Regions from separate parts of the Homo sapiens genome. Here all the other regions are linked to region 1. Evidence: fine-mapped expression QTL. A gene starts in region 1. Each other region holds a variant in brackets. All regions are shown on one strand. Distances are from middle to middle.

Region 1 (5,224 bases):
GTTGAGCAATTGCTAGTGCCAGCTGCAGTCATAGTAGAAAGTGTTTTATGAGCATGAGCTCCATGAATTTTCACAATAATAGTATAAGATGAGTACTGTTATTTTCACTTTAGTGATGAGAAAATCAAGGCCAAGTACATATGTACATTCTGCCTCTAGAAGACAGAAGCAGAGCCATCTCCAAGCCTACTGCGGCAGGCCCAGAGAAGAGAACAACCATGTTTACTGAATACATTTGCTTCTGTCTGAAGTTTGGGGAGTAGAAAGCGGAGTAAGCTATGACCAGAGGTGGGTCTGGGAATGGTGAGGCCTGATACATGTATAATTTGCAGCCCCTATTCAAGAAAAAGAGTACAAAATTATGAGTCCAAGATTAGATAAGAAAATGATTATTTCTTTAAATTAAGAAAAGAAATCACAACAAATTCAAATTTTAAGAAGCTGAAAATTACCACAAACATCACAAAATTCCCAACTCAACTTTCCTCCAAAATGCCAGCAGCCACCTGACACCACCCTACTCAAGGGCAAGTTGGGGGTGGGGAATCGGAGTGGAAAGACAGCGGTGTCTACGGCCTGCAGCCAAATGTCCAAAGCAAAGGACTTTTGTAAACTTTACATCAACAAGCCACCATCTGAACACTTTTCTAAGTCCCCTTAGAAAGGGGTCCAAGCAAGTCAGGGGCCCAAGAACTTAACCTTCATCAGCTCCTGTAAACTTACAACTGGAATTGAAGACTGTTACGGCTCAAGAGCAACGGCTTTGGAGTCAGCCAGGCCTGAATTTCATTCCTGGCTCAGCCACTTTCTGCCTTCTTTGAGCTTGGACCTGCTCATTTGTGAAATGAGTGTGCTGACAGCAGCTACCTTGGGGTCTCTCTTGGGGATTACATGAGATAAGGAAGAGTTGGGCATTGGATGAGCTTAAGGTTGCAAATAAAAATATAGGACCCCCGGTTACATTGGAATTTCGGAGACAAAAGAAATACTTTTTAAATATAAGTACGTACAACCAATCGCATAAGACATATACTGCAACTGATTCCTCGTTTCTCTGAAATTCAAATTCACCTGGGTGCCCTGTCTTTTACTGCACTTAAGAAATGACAGTGGTTGATATTGCTTTTGGATTGAAGCATCCTGGGTGTCCCACGGTGGAATTCATAGACATTAGAGAGTGGGTGACGGGCTAGGAAAGGCTGCATAGACTCCAATTAACACAGTTCATTGCCAGGGAGACTAAAAGGGGGGTGGCTATGAGAGGATGGAGTAAGTGGGGTGCCTTGATTTGGGCATGTAGGTGGAGGGGGCTATACCTCTCACTTTCACTAAACCAGTTAAGCTCTTGAGACCTCAGTTTCCTTAGCTGTAAAATGGGTGAAACATAGGGGAGACCCCTGAACCGTTCTCACCTAAATACCACACCAATGGCACTTCCTCATAATTCAGATGTCACCTCCTCAGAGAGGTCTTCCCTGACTGCTCTAGCTAAAATTACCGCCTCTCCTCCACTCCCCAACAGCAGATACATATATTATTTTTCTCCCTGTAACTCTAACTTTCTGAAACTGTCTTGCTTCTTTACTTGGTTATTTGTTTATGGTTTGCCTCTCCATGTGAATGCAAGTTCCGGGAGGGCAGAAAACTAGTCTGTCTTGTTCTAGCTGAGTCTCTCAGGAGTGGTACCTGGCACAGTAGATGCTCAATATATTTTGAATGAATGAATGGGTGGTTGAGTGAACGAATGTTAGTGTCACTATTGAGGTCCTCTCCGAGCCGTCGTTCCTTTCACAGGGGTCATGCCTGGGTTGCAGGGAGGATGTGCTGCCCCGGGGAGGGAGGAGGTGCGGGGTGTCGGTGGGTGGGGAGGAGGCTGGGCCCTGGCCTCCAGGACCGGCGAGAGTGAGCGCGCTCTGCTCGGCTGCAGGCTCAGGAAGCGGCGCGGCGGCACGTGCTGGGCCAGAGCCCCGCGCCCTGCGTCCAGCCGCCGGGTGTGTGCGCCCGCGTAGCCCAGCGTCGCGCCTCGGCGCCCCCACGCGCCCACGCAGCGGCGCGGGGACCCGGGCGGGGGCAGAGGGAGGGCCCGGCCCAGGGAGGAGAAGGGGCCGGTCCTCCCGGCGCAGGCAGCAGCCGCGGCAGCCCAGGAGGCGGAGGCAGCGGCAACGGCAGAGACAGCAACGTGCCCGCCGCAGTCAGCCCGGCCTCGTCGGACCCGCACCGGCCCGCCCGCCCGCCCGCACCGCGTCGGGGCGCCCTCTCCACTGCGCGCGGTGAGTACCGCCAGCGGCGCCCACCCCAGGCCGCCCGCCGGGATTCGCCGGGCGGGGGGAGTTGTTCACCGGGACCCCCTCGCCCTGCGCCTCTTTCTGGCACTCGCCAAGCGGGGCCTCCGCAGCTGTCGGGACGTTCTGGGGCGCACGGGCCTCCCAGGGCCAGGAAGGCACAAGGGCAGAGGGGACAGCAGCAGAGCCCCCCTCTGGAAAGGCTCTCCCAGGCTCGGGGCCCCAGTTTCCCCATGCGCTTTGGGGCAACGACCCTGAAGTTTGCTCTCCCGCGCGCGGGACAAGTGCATGGCGCGCAGGCGGTGTAGACGCGGCTGGGTCCTTGGCGTTTTGTTCGATTATGGTCCCGGCGGTTCGCGATAAGGGGCGCTCCCCCAGTCCGCAAACTCAAGCCCTCAGGTAGTGTTTATGGGATAACCAAGAAGCAGAGCCAACCGCTGGAATCCCGGCTTGGGGCTGGAACGGCCCGCTGAGACTTTGCCTTCTAGCTATTGATATATTTCTTTTCAAAAGTCCGTTTGCGCTCGGCCCGCTCTGGTTCAGGTCTGGGGCTTTGAACCGGGGCAGGGAATCCTGGCGCCTGCTGCGGGTAGAGTTGAAACTTAGAAAAGTTTACATCCGAAGGGTGTTTAGAAGGCGGCAAGGATTTCGTTGTAATGGGAGAAAGTGGGAAATGGAATTGTTTTTTAGTCATGAAGTCTGGAGGTTAAACGGCCGTGCTGGCCCAGGCTCCTTCAATATATTCCTGCCTGCCTCCCCCCCAGCAATAAATAGTTTATAAGCTCAAGGAATACTAGGAAAGCGTGACTGGTGAACGTACTCCTATCGCAAAAGACTCAGTGCGCTTTTCTCAGCTGTTGAACTGGAAGCGCCTTTTGCAGTGCGAGGTTCCTGCTTCCCCGAAGCCGAGGCTGAGAGTTGACAGCGTGCACCCTGCCGCGGTCTGAATTCTTTTTAAAAAGCAAGACCGATGCTGCGTTTTTATGGATACCCTTTTCTTTTCTTTCCCCTTCCCCGAAATGCTATGTAATCTTCAATTACTTTTTAAAATATAACGTGGAGGTATAAATCACCCCGGTAAGAGGTACCTTTTAATTACGAGGTGCAGTGGAAGAGCTGAACATTGGAATCTAGCTGTTAGCGAGGGCGGAGGGGCAGGAGGATGATTTACAAACATCATGTAAGAATTTGAGCACTGAATTATGTTTGAGTTAGGGAGATCCCTTACAAAGGAAATTATAACCAGTGGACAATTGTATTTCAAACCGAATCTATTAATTTCATGAGCCGTTTCTTGATTGAGTGAAATGTCTGTGACCATAATAGATACAGAACTAGTAAGCACCTTACCAGACTATGACCCATTTGTTAGCAACTAACATACACATGTAACCATCCTGCTTACAAAAAAAAAAAGAGGTACACAAAGAAAGAGTGGGAGGAGAGAACCTCTTTTTCAAAATAATCTTTGTGAAAGAATCTTTCACAATTTTACTCGATAAATAAATGTTCATTTTTTCCACTTGTCTTTCTTCATCACCTTAAGCCCCTTCATCCTTTACATATCTTTGCATTTAGACACTCTCACACTTGGGTAAGTTCTTCTATAATTTATATAACAAATAACAAATGATAGTGGTTTGAATCTTGCTTTTGACTAAGCATTAAATTGTGTTTGTATTAAAAAAAATCTCCTTGCCTTCGTAGCAAACTCTTAACTTTTGCCATTGTGAAAAGACCAATGTGGTTAGATGCAAAAGAGCCTGAACTTTTTTTTACTTTAAAGCAGTTTATATGTCCCCATTCTCTTGTAACTTCAGCTTCACAATATCATTCACTATTTTATCTGAAAGGAATTGGCATTTTTCTTTTCTGTCTTAAAATAGCTCACCTGGTGTTGTGACCATGTGTATGAGAATACTCTATAAACACACAAATCACTTCCCCAATATCAGAAAAACTAAAGGAAATATAAAATAAAATAAAAAGATGTGTATCTCAATACTTTAGGATTTTTTTAAAAAGTTTTCATCACGTAAGTTTTAGAATCTTCTTTTCATGTCTTTTGTTTTGCATTAAACACATCATAAAGAGGTATGATTTGTTGACTTGTTATAGGATTACCATTTGGCAAAAACGCCCAAGACACGCTGTTTCAAATATGTGGTATTACTTCTGCTTTAAATTGCGTGTAAGAGATTGCAAACCTTGTTCCAGATGGATAAATTGATAAAATGCTAGCTGCTGTTGGGAGAATGGAAAAGCCCTCAGCAAAAAGGCTCTGTGGTGTAGCTAAGTACATTTTGAATTAGGGTGAGCAAGCTATGGAGACCCCAGCCGTTTGTGAAAAAATATACACAGTCCAAGCACGTCCACTTTAAGACGTTGTTGGATCCTCCGTGACAAGATGACTCCTTTCCCACAAAGAAGAAACCGTTTCCTTATTTTTTCAGTTACTTTTCCAAAGACAACTTGCATCGGGCGCAAGAGAGCAGAGTTATGCAGAAATCCAACCGTAACCAGCTCAGAGCGAGGACTCATTCTCTCTCCTTCCACCAGATGTTTTTTAGGTGTCCTCAGCTGGAATGCCCAGTTTGAAACTAATTAGGCCAGCAGTAAACTCCTTGTATAATAAAATCGCAGGCCGTAATGGTGAATAAGTGAGGTTCCCAGCCGCTTATGACAGATGCCTTTCTGGGCAGAGAGAGAAGAGAGCCTGTGGCTGTCAGGAGAAAATGAAGGGAGTGGAGGTGCCTTCTTTAGACACATGCCTTTCCTAAGTATCCACGCACATGATCGCAGAGCGGAGGAGTGGAAGTTGCGACTGGGGTAGAGTTTTGTCTTTGCTGGGCAGGCCTCCTTCATACAAAGATGCTTGGGGGAGAATCAATTATAAGTATTAGGCAGTGTCTTCAGGTCTTAGGTGTATGCTGTGTGTGTGT
Region 2 (5,224 bases), 53 kb after region 1:
CTTTTCATGACTCGACTCTGGTCATCGTTAGGGCGTTTGATGATCTTAGACGGAATCTGCCTTTCACCTCTGTGGCCTGCTGGGCCCTTCTGGGCGTGTTACAGGAAGGGAATGCATCATTGCTCCTATCTGCCTAGTCAGCTTTTGTAACAAGCTCTTGATATGATGATTTTGTGCTTGGGTAAGCTTTTCAGACCTTCTGCGGCTCTTTGCTGCAGAAGGTGGAGGTACTGGGACAATCAAATCAAGCCATCAGCTGTTGACAGTGGGCCTGGCAAGGTCTCACGGTGCAGAAGACACTGAGCTGTCTCACGCTGGCTTGCAGTTTGGTATGTGGGATCCGGTGTGCCTGGGATGAGAGCACACTCGCAACCCAAGAGGGTCTGAAACCCTAAGCACTCTTCGAGGGTCTTGAGAATAAGTACTGACCTCAGGATCTGGGTCCCTTTCCCAGTGGGGGTTAGAGTCTCAGTGGCCTTGGTTGTCCTCCTCCAGTGCCTGTTTATATTTGAACTTCTTCCTCCTCTGGACCTCACCCATTGGATCCCTGCAGGATTGCTGGACCCTCTGCCAAGACTGGCCATCAGCGGGAGGGCTGCTTCCCTCCCTACTTCTAAGCTCAAAGCCCTAGGAGGTCTTGCCCGTGGAGACGAGGTACATGGCTTTGTGTTTTATTGCCATTTATTGTTCTTGTTATTTTAACATTTATGGAGCACGTTTTAGCTGTGAACTCATTTCTTGAGCATCACTGCGGTCAAAATCTCCCCAGGGTGCAGGGCCAAGGGTTACTTTGATTCTTTTTTTGGCTGTTGCCCTATTTACTTTATTAAAAATATCATTGTGCGAGGGGCTCCCTTTGTTCTAAGAACTTTTCTGGACATGACCCTGGGTCCACCCTAAGCCCCTGATTACCATCATTTGAACATGAGCCTGGGTATGAGTAAGGCCATATAGGCCAGCGGTCAGCAAACATTTTCTGTAAAGGACCATGTCATAAATATTTTTGGCTTTGGGGGCCTCTGCTGTAACTACTCAACTCTGCTCTTATCACATAAAAGCCGCCATAGACAGTATATAACTGAATAAAACTTTATATACAAAACCAGACAGCAGCCAGAATTTGGCCCATGGGCCATAGTTTACTGACTGCCCCCTCCCCACCCACCCAACGTAGATGATGGGGCTTTGTTCTACGAACTCCCTTTTAGTTCTTCCATAGATCTAAAGAGTCAGTTCTTCTTACTGCAGTTTTGGCCTGTTTCTACTTCTTTGTTTGATCCCCTAGAGCGTGAGTTGGCAAACTGAGGCCAACAGCTCAAACCTGGCCAGTTGCCTGTTTTGTAAATAAAGTTTTATTGGAAAGCAGCCACACCCATTCATTCTGTGTTATCTATGGCTGCTTTCCCACTACAACAGCAGAGCTGAGAAGTGGCGTCAGAGACCTCTTGGCCCCCAAAGCCTAAAATATTTCCCATCTAGCTCTTCACAGAAAAGCTTGCTGACCTCTACTCTAAAGAGTTGAGGAATGGCTGGCTGAGAAGCAGACTTTTTTTTGCATGTACATGAAGAGCATTACTAACCCTCCCAAACTCATCTTAGAACTTTTCTCCCAGGTTCTCTTGTCTAGTCTTTCAAATATTTTAGATGTTATTCTCTGGAATCTAAGTTTTTTTTTTTTTCCAAAGTTCCAGACCACTGTTTTTAAACAACTTTGGACTGTGATCCTCATAAAGGACATATTTTATATGTCACCCCTGTAATGACATACAATAAACTGCATACACACAGATGTCCCCACCACACACACAAACCACACAAAACACATACAGAAATGAAAGTTTTAAGAAACAATGCTTGCCTTACTATATGTGATAAGCTCTCGTATTTTCTATGAACACCAGTCAGGATCAGCTTGATGATGCTGTGGTAACAAGTAACCCCAAATCTGAGTGCCTTAAATCAACAGACATTTATTTATTGCTCCTGCTCCACGTTTGCCCTGGATCACTGGGGATCCTGAAGGAGCAGAACATCACACACTGATCTCCAAGTGTCTGACAAGAGTGGTACTCACCATTTCTTTGAATATTTCTTTGGTCAAAGCAGCTCACATGACCATAACTTTCAATAGAGTGAAGAAGTGCAGCCCTACTGTGGACCCAGAAGGTGAATCTGAGATATTTGGTCAACAGCATTAAGATAACTACCATATGGCTGGGCATGGTGTCTCCTGCCTATAATCCCAGCACTTTTAGAGGCCAAGGTGGGAGGATCTCTTAAAGCTAGGAGTTCCAGACCAGCTTAGGCAACATAGTGAGACCTCATGTCTACAAAAAGTTTTAAAACTAGCCTTGCATGGTGGTGCATGCCTGTAGTCCCAGCCACTCAGGAGGCTGATGTGGGAGGATCGCTTGAGCCCAGGAGGTCAAGGCCATGGTGAGCTATGATCTGCACTCCAGCCTGGGCAGCAGAGTGAGACCTTGTCTCAAAAAAAAAAAAAAGAAAAAGAAAAAAGAAAACAAAAGAAAAAAATTACTACCATATTAGTCTATCCCAGGAGTTGGCAAACTTTTTCTGGAAAGGGCCAAATGCTAACTATTTTTGGCTTTGCGGGCCATACCATCTCTGTCACAACTATTCAGTGCAGCAGTTGTCACGTAAAAACAGTCAGAGACAACATGTAAACAAATGGGCTTATCTGTGTTCCAGTAAAAC[A/T]TTATTTATAAAAGCAGGCGGTGGGCTGGGTTTGGCTCATAGGCTGTGGGTTGCCAACCCTGGTCTACTCTATTTCTTTTTTGAAAAACACTGGTCACAGCTCACTAAACTGATTTTATTAACCCATCTATGGGTGAGACTCTATAGTTTGAAAACCCCAAGTGACGATAAGCTGCATAAGATGAGGGACTAATATTTCTTATCAGCTGTATCCTCGGTGCCCAGTACAGGGTTAGTGCTGAGTAAACATTGTTGAAAGAAGCCACTGAAAATCCTCTCCAACTGTTTTTCTGGTGATAAATACTCTGTTCAAGATGCATACGTTATTGTGTTTCTCTCGTAAGGTTGCCTGGAAAAAAACAAAATAAAATAAAGCTGCACACATTATTGTTTAATTCGTAAAAGGTTGACCCTACTTTCAAGGTAACTGTCAGTTCCAAACTTAGAGACACAAGTATTATGTTCACTTCTCTAAGAGCACTGTTCTTCATTCAAGCTTGAGATGATCGCTCCATAAATGTAGTGTTGAAATCTATACTTGTGGAAACCCAGGTCATTGTATATCTGTTTTCTTCATATATATTTATTATTTATTGTGTCAGGGAAAATACATGCACTATCTCATTTAATTTTCTCAAAAATTGCAGGAGGTGGGTGCTAATGTTACTCGCATTGTACAGATGAGGAAACTGCAGCTCAGAGGAATATGCCCAGTGTCTTGGAGCTCAAGACTGGTAGAGATGGGATTGGAGCAGAGTCTCTGACTCCAGAATATGGGGTGTTTGATCATTTGGCTATGGTGTCTCTGGGACATGCCACCACATACCAAGACCTACTCAAGTGCAAGGTCTTTAAATGCTATTGGCAGTTGAGGCCATGTTTTAAGTCCTCTTAGAAAGACACTATATTGTGCTTCATAAGATGATACAAAACATACATGAGCCGGTTCCTTTTATGGGAAAATCTGAAGTTAACAGTGAGATTGGGGAGTGGGGAGGGTTTAACACTTTAACAGCTGTCCTGCTAAGTGTGAGAGTAAGTCAGGCCAAACCTAGTCTCACAGTCAAGACTTTCAGGTAAAAGTAATAGAGAACTCAAGTCAAACTGGTTCAGCAAGTAAAGAGAATTTAGGGGATCAAGGAACTGAGAGTCCAGGGTCAGAGCTCAGTTCAGGTATAGCTGGATCAGGGTTGCTGATGCAGTCAGGATTTCAGTTGTTTTCTGACTCTTGACTTGTTTTGTTCTTCTCCACGTTTTGGGTTTAACCTCAGCCTGCACATGGAGCTAGATGGTGGGGTAACTGAGCCACACCCTCTAAGGCACATAGTAGGTGCTCACCAAATATTTATTGAATGGATGGACTGCTCAAGATTGGCTTAAAAGCTTGATACTTTTATGTAGCTGTTAGGTTGGTATGCATTTTAAGATTTGTGTGTATCTGTCTGTGTGTAGCCCAGAGGTTAAGAGTGGAAGCACATTGCTTTGGTTGCAACCCTTGGCTGTGCCACTTACCCACTGTGTGACTTTTGGCAAGGGTCCCAACCCCAGTTCTGCACCTGCAACTGCCCTATGAAGTAGGTAGTATCATTTTGCATCTATGATGCACAAGGATAGCATGACACAAAGAGGCTGAGGTGCTTGCACAAGGTGATTTATGGAGCTGGGTGTGCACCTTGGCATTCTGGTTCCATAGCCTGTGTTTTTCTCCACTGTGCATGCAAAGTGCTCAACACAGTGCCTGGCACAGAGTAAGCTCCCAGTAATCAAAAGAGCCATCAATCCAGGCTCGTTTAAAGGTGGTGGTGGACAGGGCAAGGGTTTCTCCCAGGATAACATGTAGTGAAGCATGGAGTTGAGTGATATAAAAAATAATCACTTTCCTAGAGTCTGGGAGAACTGAATTATTATTTCCCAGCTGCCACTAATCTGCAGGGGGACCTTGCAGCGATGTTCCCCTCTCAGACAGAGACTCAATTTTCACAACCATAAAATAATCTAAGGAGTCTCAAGTACCCTTCTAGCCCTGATATTCTAAGAGTCTGTGACTTGATGATGCCTGTGAGTTTGGAGGTCTCATGGCTGGGCACTGAGTTTCCAAGATTGCACATGGTTTGGGGTGCTGGAGCTGTGGGGAAATCATGAGGAGTCACTCTGCAGCATCTGTTCCCTGCTCCTCCTTCTGGGTGCTCCTCCACCAAGGGGCAGGAAAGCCCAAACTCCCTTGCAGCTAGGTTTCTAGGAGTAATGGAACATTAAGCAGGCACATGCGCTTCCTTGAAATTCAGAAGGCGGAGGTCGTACTCAAATTGCCTCTGCCGTGTTGGTTGTTTCTGTCACTGTGCAGAGTCTGGAGTAGTTTGGCTTGCTGCACAGCTTTAGCAGAGGCCCCAGCGAGCAGGCACTAGCTTTATGTGTGTTGAGAGGCATGGTGTCTTTGTGTGGGTTCCCAAGAAGCTGACCTCAAGATCAGGGCTCCAGTGCCAATAGTTCATTTAAGAGGTGACTCCAA
Region 3 (5,224 bases), 71 kb after region 1:
CCATTGTGGCTCAGACTGCAGATCTTAACACATCAGCGGGTTATGAAATCAATTTGGTGAGCCACAGCCAGCATCGCAGGAAGAAAAGTAATAGAATCGAAAATACCAGAGTGTGTTGCACATGAGGTCAGTGTGGTTTTTTGAAACTTTTATTTGAAGTTTTATAAAGGTGTACACTGCACTGCATTGCAAAACAGGTTTCTTACTGTGAGTCTTGGTTGAAGAATTCGAAAGCCACTGTTTTTAGTCCCTGTGAAAGTTTGGAATTTAGCCCAAGGGGCAGTGGGGAGCAATTAAAGAGGTTTTAGTGGGGGGCATGACAAGGTCAGATGTATGTTTAAAAATCTCACTCCAGGAGTGTGGAGAACAGATTTGGAGGAGGTGGGCAGTGGAGGCTGGGAGGCGTCTTGGCAGGCTGTTGGAGGCAGTCACTGGGGTGTGACAAAGAGAACCAAGTAGCACCTGGCACACAGAGGTCCGCAGGTGGCTGTTGAAGGGATGCACGTGTCTGCAACATGGGAGGATCCTGGGAGGTTGAAAGGCAACATTTCAAGCTTTGCCTCCAACCCCTCCCTGGGATGACCACCTACTTGTCACCTGTCCTGTGACGCAGGTATCCCAGGCATGGCAGATAATAGACTCTGATTTTAACACTTCCTGTTTGCCAGACACTCTGCTAAATGCTTTCAAAACTCATGTAATGCCCTCAGAACAACCCCATTGGTAAGTACTGTTAGGATTCCCGTTTCACAGATGAGGAAACTGAGACCAAGAAAGGATGTTACTTGCCCAAGGTCACAGCGATCATCAAGCTGTGTAGCTGGCACTCCAGCCGGGCAGTGCGGCTCTAGAGTCTGTGTGCCCCAGCATCTGCTGCAGTCATGTGGGAGCCAAGCTGCTTGGGTTTGAATTTAGGGGATAATACACTGAGTACTCTCGTGAGGATTTAGTAAGGGACGGTCAGTGAGTAATACATTCAGGGCAGTAAGGGCCTGGAGCTTAGGACGTGCTAGATAAATGAGAGTGAGTTGTGCCACTAGACGCCCAACTTGTAGAGTTGGATTCAAATTCACGTAACTTGTGAACAGACGGTGGAACTGCCAGGGTTCGAATCCGCCTCTGACACTTAACTGCCTGCATCGCAGGAGTGTGGTACCAGCGCTGGCTCTTGTAATTAGGTGCTCTATGTCCAGTACTTAGAACTGAGCCCGACCTTGGTGAACCCTAAGCATGAGCCATTGATCCCACTGCTCAAGGTCATACAGGAATACAAGGGCCAAGGCTGGAGTTCAAACCCACAGCCAGCTTGCTACTGAGCAACTACAGCCCAGTGTAAAAAGGGCTTTAAACAGTCAAGTTAGGTTTTTCTCTGGCTCTTCGAATCCTTAATCCCTTCTCTCCATGTCTGCCCACCAGCAGTGTTCCCAAGTTAGAGCTTCCAGCCCAGGCAGGCCGCCAGAGTCACCAGGCACCCCAGGGCACAGAGACCCATCCACAGCCTTGGGCAAAGGTGGGGGGTTGGAGGGAAGCCTCTGAGAGAGCTGGAAGGTCCCAGCCCCGCAGTGGCCACCAGGTGCCAGGGCCTGGGCCTCACGCCTCATAGCTCCTGAGTCTGACCTAAGCGTGCCTTCTTCCCAGCGTGCAGAACTGTTTGCCTGGGCGTAGGTTGGAGACAGGTGACCCCACCTGGTTGGTTCAGGCCCACGCTTGTTCAGCCTCCTAGACGCTCTGAGTCTTGGCCTCCTGACTCCTCTGGGGTTGGCGCAGCCTTGCTTGCCTTGGCTCCCGTCCGCCGGGCTGTTCCCTGCACGTACGAGTGGCCCTTTAGAATGTGTTTGTCTGGTCAAGGTTGACAAACTTCCTGAGCCCACGTCTGTTGACTTTTGTGGGACCTTCTGGCTACCTGGCTGTCGCGGATGCTTCGCTCAAGCCCTGTCTTCTCTCTTGGGGTGTGGAGTCAGCTAAGAGGGCAGCAGAGCTGGCTGTGTTCACGGAATCCAGTGTCTGGAGAGAAAGCTGGTGCCCATGGCGGCTGGGACTGGCAAGTGAAAACTTGAAATTCCATGAATGTAGCACCTGGTGATTCTTTGGAGAACTTTAAAATGCAGCATGAGTATAAACTGTTCTTAACAACCAGGATATGAACGAGGCAACCTCTTACAGTCTTTTTTTCTTTTTCTTTTTTGGGATGGGATATCCCTCTGTTACTCAGGCTGGAGTGCAGTGGTGGCATCATAGCCTTGAGCTCCTGGGTTCACGTGATCCTGC[C/T]GCCTCCGCATCCCAAAGTGCTGGGATTACAGGGATGAGCCACTGTGCCCAGCATACCGTTCATTCATTTGTTAATTCAGCAAAATACTATTCATCACATATTCTGTGGCAGGTGCTGTTCTAAGCACAGGGATAGAGCAGGAACAATCTAGCTACAGCCTCTGTTCTCATGGAGCATGTTAAGGTCTCCAGCAACACTGTCCGAGAAAAATATAACATGCTTTACCAGTGTGAGCCACATATGTAACTGCAAATTTTCTAGTAGCCTTGTTAAAAAAAATATGTAAAACAGCAGGCCTGGCGCGGTGGCTCACACCTGTAATCCCAGTACTTTGGGAGGCCGAGGTGGGCGGATCACGAGGTCAGGACATCGAGACCGTCCTGGCTAACACGGTGAAACCCTGTCTCTACTCAAAATACAAAAAAAATTAGCCGGGCATGGTGGTGGGTGCCTGTAGTCCCAGCTACTTAGGAGGCTGAGGCAGGAGAATGGTGTCAACCTGGGAGGCGGACCTTGCAGTGAGTCGGTATCATATTGTGCCACTGCACTCCAGCCTGGGCGACAGAGCGAGACTCCATCTCAAAAAAAAAAACTGTGAAACAGTACATTTTATTTAACTCAAGATGTCAAAAAATATTATCATTTCAATACATCATCCATACTTTTAAGATTACTAATGCATTATTTTACTTTTTTTGTATCAAGTCTTTGAGATCTGGTGTGTGTTTGGACACATCTCAATTTGTTTTTTGTTTGTTTGTGTTTGTTTTTGTTTTGGGGACAGAGTCTTACTCTGTCACCCATGCTGGAGTGCAGTGACGAAATCTCAGCTCACTGCAACGTCCACCTCCCAAGGTTCAAGTGATTCTCGTGCCTCAGACACCCAAGTAGCTGGGACTACAGGCACACACCACCACATCCAGCTAATTTTTGTTTTGTTTTGTTTTTAGTTGAGATGGGGTTTCACCATGTTGGTCAGGCTGGTCTCGAACTGCTGACCTCAAGTGATCCGCCCACCTCGGCCTCCCGAAGTGTTGGGATTACAAGCTGGAGCCACTGCACCTGGCCCACATCTCAATTTAAACTAGCCACATTTCAAGTCACCTGTGGCTCATGGCTACTGATTAGAGTCTAAAGAGAGAGATAAGCATTATACAATTAAATACTCAGCTGTTAATTCCAATGGTAGTAAATGTCATGATTGACAAGTTCAGAGTGCAGTGGAAATTAATCCAGTCAGGGAGGATGGTGATAGCAGTAATGGTATCAGGGAAGGCTTCCTGGAAGCAGTGACTTTGTGATTTTTATGCAGAAACCTAAAGTGGGGTGAAGGGGAAGGATGAGCATTCAGGACAGAGGGAACAGCTGTGAGCAGACCCCAAGGTGCCAAGGAGCTTGCTGCTTTTAAGGGATACCAGGTAAAATGCTGGTATCACCAGAGAGTTGAGTAGGAAGGGATGCAACAGGAGAGGTTAGCAGGAGCCAGGCCATGTGAAGCAGCTCACATGGCTCCTGGTGCACAGCAGTGCTGCACTCACAATGACAATTGGCACTTGGAGAGACAGCTGCTGCTTGCAGTTACATCACAGATCGGGATGATTGGCTTGACCTTGTGTATTGGAGGCCTCCAGGACAACCCCTGGTGGTGGCATAGACAGCAGCCATCATCCCTCCTTGCAGGCCAACAGAAGCTCGATCTTATCTGGCTGACCATGGGCTCTGCCCAAGGAGATGAAGGGTGGTTAGACCAAGCCCCTTGTGATTGGTCTGGATGAGATATGGGGGATGGCTGCTGGAGGATGCTGATGGAGATATTCCTCTGAGATAAAATGAAGGCGCCACATGAATGGAGCCTCTTTTCCCACTTTCTTCCTTCCTGCTTAGAGTAGGGCCATGTCCAGTTGTGTTTCTTAGAAATGTGGCTTCTGATGTCCTGTGACCCTAGGGGGAGGACAAGAGACAGGCGAAGGTGCCCATCTAGGGCCCTGATCTTGTTAACCCACCTGAACCGCCATCACCAGACATCTTAGCAATTGTGATCATTCATATCTGCACCTTTTACTGTAACATGCATTGTGTGGGATGAACCCAAGAATGGCAAACATTTACCTGGCACTTACTGTGCTCCAGGTGTTCCTCAAAGCCCTTTGTCTCACGTCATCCTCACAGCAACTCTCTGAGGTTGGCGCCTTTCTTATCCCCATTGTACAGATGAGCAGGGACTCACGCCCAAGGGTTGCGGCTGTATCTTTTAACCGTCACCCTATACTGCCCCCTCCGTGTTTAAACATGTTGGTTTGGAAAGCTCATTCCCCTCCCCTTCACCACCCCCCAGAACATCATTCCTCTAAAACAGGTTTCTCATGCTCAGCACTTTTGACATTTTGGGTTGGATGATTGTTGTGGAGCTGTCCTGTGTGTTACGGGATTTTAGTAGCATTCCTGACTTCTACCCACCGGATGCCAATAGCACCCTCCCCATTGGTGATAACCAAAAATATATCCAGACATTGCCAGGTGTCCTCTGGGCAGCAAAATCCCACCCCGCCGCGCCCCCCACCGACCCCACTAAGAACCTCTACGCTAAAAGATGTTTTCCTGCCAGTCACCTGGGTCGCTCTGTGTCCTTGTTCAGGTTAACGTTTCTGAACCTCTCTTTCCTCTTCTGTAAAATGAGGGGACAGTATTACGTATCTCATGGGTTATTTTAAGGATTAAATCAACCAGTGTATGGAAAGCAGCTAACAGTGCTGAGTGCATAATGAGCACTTGCTCGGTGTGATGATTTGACCTACACGGCTCTTTCTTGTCTGTTTTCAGCTAACAGGAACTGCTAGCTGGGATTTTTTTTACCAGCAAAAGAGAATTCCTTGATCCAAGGTGAAATCTACCAGGGTGTTAGCTCTGGGAGTCAGAGGCTCCATCTGTCTTCCTCCGCTACTGGATTGCCAGGAA

Which allele goes with the higher level. Alleles are on the strand shown, and positions count from the first base shown. SD is a standard deviation of normalised expression in the study named.
With allele T in place of A in region 2, the expression in lung of the gene that starts at base 2,126 in region 1 is lower (small effect, 0.39 SD a copy in GTEx).
As copies of T replace C in region 3, the expression in sun-exposed skin of the gene that starts at base 2,126 in region 1 goes down (small effect, 0.23 SD a copy in GTEx).

The links. PIP is the estimated chance that this variant, and not a neighbour inherited with it, causes the effect.
Region 2: its variant is the best candidate, but not a certain one, in a credible set for the expression of EYA2 in lung (GTEx, PIP 0.87).
Region 3: its variant is the best candidate, but not a certain one, in a credible set for the expression of EYA2 in sun-exposed skin (GTEx, PIP 0.58).

Annotation. Positions count from the first base shown.
Region 1 is chr20:46,892,718-46,897,941 of GRCh38, forward strand. It overlaps EYA2 (EYA transcriptional coactivator and phosphatase 2), which reads left to right and starts at 2,126. Exons shown (of 16, transcript NM_005244.5): 1 at 2,126-2,270.
Region 2 is chr20:46,945,623-46,950,846 of GRCh38, forward strand. All of the region lies in intron 1 of EYA2 (EYA transcriptional coactivator and phosphatase 2), which reads left to right. Among named protein-coding and RNA genes, the nearest start is that of EYA2-AS1, 46 kb to the left of the region's middle. RefSeq lists an enhancer at 1-263. The variant A/T (reference allele first, on the strand shown) is at 2,716.
Region 3 is chr20:46,963,965-46,969,188 of GRCh38, forward strand. The region is part of intron 1 of EYA2 (EYA transcriptional coactivator and phosphatase 2); the gene reads left to right. Among named protein-coding and RNA genes, the nearest start is that of EYA2-AS1, 65 kb to the left of the region's middle. The variant C/T (reference allele first, on the strand shown) is at 2,269.